Regions from separate parts of the Homo sapiens genome. Here region 2 is linked to region 1. The links come from fine-mapping of genetic effects on gene expression. A gene starts in region 1. The other region holds a variant in brackets. All regions are shown on one strand. Distances are between the middles of the regions. Region 1 holds the start of CA3-AS1 (CA3 antisense RNA 1). Region 2 has its middle 80 kb from the start of CA3-AS1.

Region 1 (2,916 bases):
CACGGCCGTGCAGCAGAGGGCGCGTGCCTCTCAGCACTCATGCTGCGCGCTCCCCTGCGCCTCTAGGATCGTATCCCTATTTGCCCCAAGGTCATAGCTCCTAACCCAGCTTGCCAGCCCCAGGCCGGGGACACCAGAGACTGAGCCCTTCGCGCTGGAGACCCCGGCGCGGGTGGGGCGGGAGGGCTCCGGGGCCAAGAGACAGGTCACAATGGGGACAGGGGACGAAAGGCGCCGGGGGTCCGGGTCCCGAGCAGTCCCCGCCGCCGCCAGACTCCGCAGCCGGGAGGGGGATGGGGTGCGCGTAGAGGCTCCGCGGCCCGGGTTGGACGGAGGAGCCCAGGAGCCACCGCAGCCGCCGCACGCCCAGAGCTCCGAGCTTCGCTGCCAGCCCAGGACACCGGGGCCCTGCCGTGGGCCGAGGGGAGCCGGGCGGCGGGAGAGGAGCCCCGGAGCCCCGGAGCCCCGGAGCCCCGCCGGGCGCCAGCCGAGAGGGCGTTTTCCCCGCCCCCGGAGACTCGCCCGCCCGGCCCGCCCCGCCCCGAGCGCGGGGAGTTCACCTCCGCCCGTCACCACCTCCCCTTGTCGCCTAGGTCCACCCGAGCCCCCTCCCCCGGGCCGCCCCCGAGCACGAAGTTGGCGGGAGCCTATAAAAGCTGGTGCCGGCGCGACCCGCGGACACACAGTGCAGGCGCCCAAGCCGCCGCCGCCAGATCGGTGCCGATTCCTGCCCTGCCCCGACCGCCAGCGCGACCATGTCCCATCACTGGGGGTACGGCAAACACAACGGTGAGTGCCGGCGACGGCCAGCGCGGGGGCGCCCCGATCCCCGATCCCCGATCCCCGATCCCCGAGCCCGGATGCCGGCCCGGGGCCCGCAGCGCCCGCACATGCTGTTTACCGCGGCCGCGGGGAGTGCTGGAGGCTCAGGTGCGCCCCGGGCGCTCGCTCCGCTCGCGGCTCCGCGGCGCCGGGGATGTCCCCCTTGCCCCAGCTGCGAGGCCACTGTGGAGGAATCCCCGCGTCCGCCGGAGGCGCGTAGGGCCCGAGGGAGGGGAGGCGCAGCCCTGGCCGCGGGACCCGAGGACAGTCCCTCCCGGGTCCCGACCTGGGGATCATTTTAACCGGACCTAGGAGGAGGCGGGAAAGGGTTGTAACGGAAAATTCTAGTTGTTGATCGCAGAGAAATTAAGAGACTCCCCTCCCCCCTCCCCCACCTTCCACCCCCACCCCACCCCTCCAGCTTCAGCACCACCTGTGGCTAAGGCGCTCAGCACGAACTGTCCCGGGGCATTTTCCAGTGCTGGTTTGAATCCATGGCTCTGATTTCCGAGTTTTCCCTTCATCTCTCGACTTCTAATGTTAGGGGGTCGGACATCAGGAATCGGGTTTTATCTTGGCCTCAGATCTGGTTCTTCGGAGCCAGCGGAGCAGAGGAGCATGCGTCTGGCGCACCTAGCGCATCTTTGGAGGGTGTGGGGCTTCCCAGGTAGTGGGGAACCCTGACGGTTAAAGGTGGGGTGGGCCCGGGCCTGGGCAGTGAGGAAAGGATCCAGACCTCCTTGAATGTCTTAAGTGAGCTTGCATATCCCAAAATCGCAACCACAAGCCCTGACATTAGTGTCTGCCCGATTTCAGTTGCTGAATTTCAGTAAAACGACCTTAAAATAGCTAATATTTATATAGCACTCAGTGATCTAAGAGCTTTACATATATCGATTCTAATTCTTACAGCGACATCTATGAGGTAGATTTCTAATTATCCCATATTACAAATGTGGAAACTGAGGCACAGATTACGTGTTTTCCCAAAATTTAGCCCATTGTTAAGTGATGCTTCTAAAATTGGAACTGAGCAGATTGGCTCCGGAATGATTGCTCTTCTCTAGGGGTCTGGGTGTACCTTTCCCCACAATGGGGGATTCACATGTCTTCTTTCCCCCAGGACCTGAGCACTGGCATAAGGACTTCCCCATTGCCAAGGGAGAGCGCCAGTCCCCTGTTGACATCGACACTCATACAGCCAAGTATGACCCTTCCCTGAAGCCCCTGTCTGTTTCCTATGATCAAGCAACTTCCCTGAGGATCCTCAACAATGGTCATGCTTTCAACGTGGAGTTTGATGACTCTCAGGACAAAGCAGGTCAGTGTTTAGAAAATAACTTGTGTCTTTTAGCCAGTAGCTGTTTTCCGAGCTTAATGGAAGGAGCCAGGAACAGTGGCAGGAACCCTCTTAATAATACAGTTTGTCTCAGGACTCAAGGATGCCACCCTGATCATTTTCATTAGGTCTCAGATTCTGAGAAGTAGGCTAATTAGTTTGAAGTGTCCCGGGGCCGTTTCTTCCCTGTAAAACCCTTGGCTTCTATGAAGGCCATTGAATAACTGCGATATGCCTGTGAAAAATCACAAAAGGTGCAAAGTCCCCTCGCAATAAAGATCAGTCACGATGAGATTTGCACCAATTGAACTTTTAAGATTGTAAAATATTTTGTCTTGCAGAGCTGATGCATATCCATTAAAAAGTATATCTTAGTGAGCCTTATCTTCAAGTTAGCAGCGAGAAGAGTAACAAAAACGTGCCAATTTAAAATACTGAAATTCTGGGAAAATGTTTTACTTATGAGTATTTCTTAGTATTGGGCTAGTGTGATAAAGATGGCAGCATGTTTTGATATCTACTCAGAAATTCATTTCACAAACGAAGATGTTTTAGAGTTGGTGAACATACCTGGCCCATTACTGACAAAACCAATTACCGTATTTATTGGTAATAGAGCTGTTTACAGGATGCTCACTGTAAAAAAAAAAAAAAAAAGAAAGAGAAAGAAGAAAAAAAATCCTGCTTTTTTTTTTTTATCTCTCTCTCTTTTGAAACAAGAGAACAATCCCATTCACACATAGTAGCTGCCTTCT
Region 2 (2,916 bases), 80 kb after region 1:
CTTATTTTTAAAAAATCTCAATTAAAATTGGTCCTCTTGGTTTCTGTCAAGCCATGTTTAAATTACCAGCTGATAATTATGGTAAAATTTATTGGTGGTGATGGGTGGGGGCAGAAGATTTATTATCTACTGAGAATACTTGCATTTAGTAGAGGATCAAACCTCCTCAAGACCCTTAACAACTATGCTGTAAAAATTACAGCTTCAAAGATGACAGGGTTGATATTCTTGAGCAAGGGTCCCCTAGCCAGCTTCCTACTCAAATTCCTACTCAATCTTCCTTAGCTGGTTTGTAAGACTGCTTGTGGCATTAGTTTTATTCAGGAAACATGGAGCTCTCTGAGAAAAAGGGCTCATGAGATTATTCCAAAGATAAACATATTGAGTAGAAAGAATAGAGTTATTTGATACATAAAGGATAACTGTGTTCAACGTAAGTTTATTGTACAAGTAATATTCACAGAACACACAAAAATCCCTGTCCTCAAGTAGCTCATATTCTAGTAATACAATGAACGGTTGGGCAGGATAATTCTTTGTGGAAAAGCACAAAGAATCTGTTGAATTTTTATTTAAATTTTATCTTTTCTAGAGAAATAGACATGTACACATATAAACATGTACAAGTTGTCATTGCAGCATAATTTCTATGGTAAAAAATTGGAAGCAATCTAAATGTTCACCCAAGAGGGAATAGTAATATAGTGGGTATCATACGAAAATGAAATTAATAGCATTCTTTATTTTTCTGTAAATCAACATAGAGATTATATGTTGAGCTCCAATGTGGACTGATGGTAGAAAACTTAATCTGGTCACTTCCAGATATCAATTCAGGACTTTCTCTTACCTTAGCTGTCATGTATATTCACAGGTGCTGAAGGGCCATCACGTTCGGGAATGGTCTCCACTTGGTGTCTGCCCACGCAGACAGGGGTATCATACCATTCTCAGGAATGGTCACTGAATATATAGGCTTCTCAGAGCCAGAACCACCCAGCCCAGCCCTTCTTGAATTCTTGATTAACAGAAACTGTGAGAGGTAATAAAATAATTACTTTTGTTTTGAACCATTAAAATTTTATGGTAATTTGTTATGCAGTAATAGATCATTGCAACAGCCCTCCTTCCATCAATTTTGTAGCACCTGGTCAAAGTTTTCTCTTCCTCAAGACCTACATGGACGTCTGACTGTTGCTCTATCTCCATTCCCAGGACTGGTATTATCTACTATGCTGGTGGGGGAAGGGATGGAAGTGGGGTAGTTGTTCTGAATCTTCAGCTATTCTCTTTTCAAGCTATTGTTTGTGGCTTTTTTCCCTTTTACTCAGCTCTGCCCAAATTTTACTTCTGAGTCTTAAAACTCAAAACAAAACCGAAAACCCCATATTTGTAATCAAAAATTTTAAAAAAGGTTTTCAAGACTATGGTTTTTGTCATGATTTTTAAAAGTTTGCTTAGAAACGTAAGAACTAGACTTGCTGTTTGGTTCATTTGAGTGTGCTAG[C/T]TCTCCTCCAAGGTGATGAATGCCGCTAACTGGAGTCAAGGGCCAGGAAATAAATGTGTGTATGGGGAAGAAACCTTAATATCTTAATACTTATTAAAAAACAAAACTACGGTTTTCAACTATGAGGACAACACTAGTTTGTGAAACAGTCAAGGGATTTACTTTATCTGTATAGTTTAAATTATTTTAAATTATTTTTTTAGAGTGTGTGAATATTAATTTTGTAATTAAAATTTTTAAAATTATAATAAATTTAGCTTTTTTTTTTTTTTTTTTGGAGACAGAGTCTTGCTCTGTTTCTCACACTGGAGTGCAGTGGCACAATGTCGGCTCACTGCAACCTCCGCCTCCTGGGTTCAAGAGATTCTCCTGCCTCAGCCTCCGTGAGTAGCTGGGACTACAGGCACATGCCACATGCCAAGCTAATTTTTGTATTTTTAGTAGAGACGGGGTTTCACCATATTGACCAGGCTGGTCTTGAACTCCTGACCTCAAGTGATTTGCCCACCTCAGCCTCCCAGAGTGTTGGGATTACAGGTGTGAGCCACCACACCCGGTTAATAAAATGTTTTAAGAGAACTAAACAATTATTCTGCCATCAGCATTAATAAATGTACTTACATACTCAAAAACATTCAGATATAATTTGTGGAGAAATACAACATAAATTAAAATTCAAATCAATTTTTGAAAAAATTTTAACTCTTCTACTTGTAAGTTTTTCAAATAATAATATAAGAAAAAAGTTACTCATATGTCTCAAATGTCATGTCCCTTATATATTGTTAAAGTTTGTAAATATAATTTATGTTGCATAACAAGAATAGTCATTTTTCTCATGAAATGTGATGTAGACACTAACCTGGATCTTTCAGAATTATTGTAATTGCTCATAAAATGGACCATATCATTTATTCATTAACTAAGTCAATATATATTCAATATGTAGCTACTATGTGCCAGGAAGATAAGTTAGGCATGTTTTAGAATGGAGATGATCCTAGCCTTCTGGAATTTACGGTCTAGTGGAAGAGACAGTAATTACTTAAAATTACACAAATAAACATATAATTACAAATTTAATAAGTTCTCTAGAGCTGTGGTTTTTACTCCCAAGCAGGAGTAATTTTGCCCCCTCCCCCTCAGAAGACTTTTGGCAATGTCTGGCAACATTTTTGGTTGTCATAAATTAACCACTAAAGATAAAGGGCACATTTGTTTTGCCCTGTTTTCTTTGCTTGCCAACATACACAGAAGTAAAGACTTCAAGTAGGGAACACTCTGCATTCGCTTCTGTAATGAGAAGGTCAGAATCGGGATATCTGGAGAGCACCAACTTGAGGAATGAATGACCAGGATAAGGGGTGGGGTGGTGCTACCAACATCTAGTGGGTAGAGTCCAAGGATGC

What was found.
Region 2: its variant is fine-mapped to the expression of CA3-AS1 in whole blood (TOPMed, PIP 0.95).

What each region holds. Positions count from the first base shown.
Region 1 is chr8:85,463,327-85,466,242 of GRCh38, forward strand. CA3-AS1 (CA3 antisense RNA 1) reads right to left here and starts at 1,589. Exons shown (of 3, transcript NR_121630.1): 1 at 1,256-1,589. CA2 (carbonic anhydrase 2) reads left to right here and starts at 681. Exons shown (of 7, transcript NM_000067.3): 1 at 681-789; 2 at 1,946-2,143. The coding sequence starts at 756. RefSeq lists silencers at 1-176, 247-566, 677-1,146 and an enhancer at 790-1,289.
Region 2 is chr8:85,543,470-85,546,385 of GRCh38, forward strand. No RefSeq gene overlaps it. Among named protein-coding and RNA genes, the nearest start is that of CA3-AS1, 80 kb to the left of the region's middle. The variant C/T (reference allele first, on the strand shown) is at 1,508.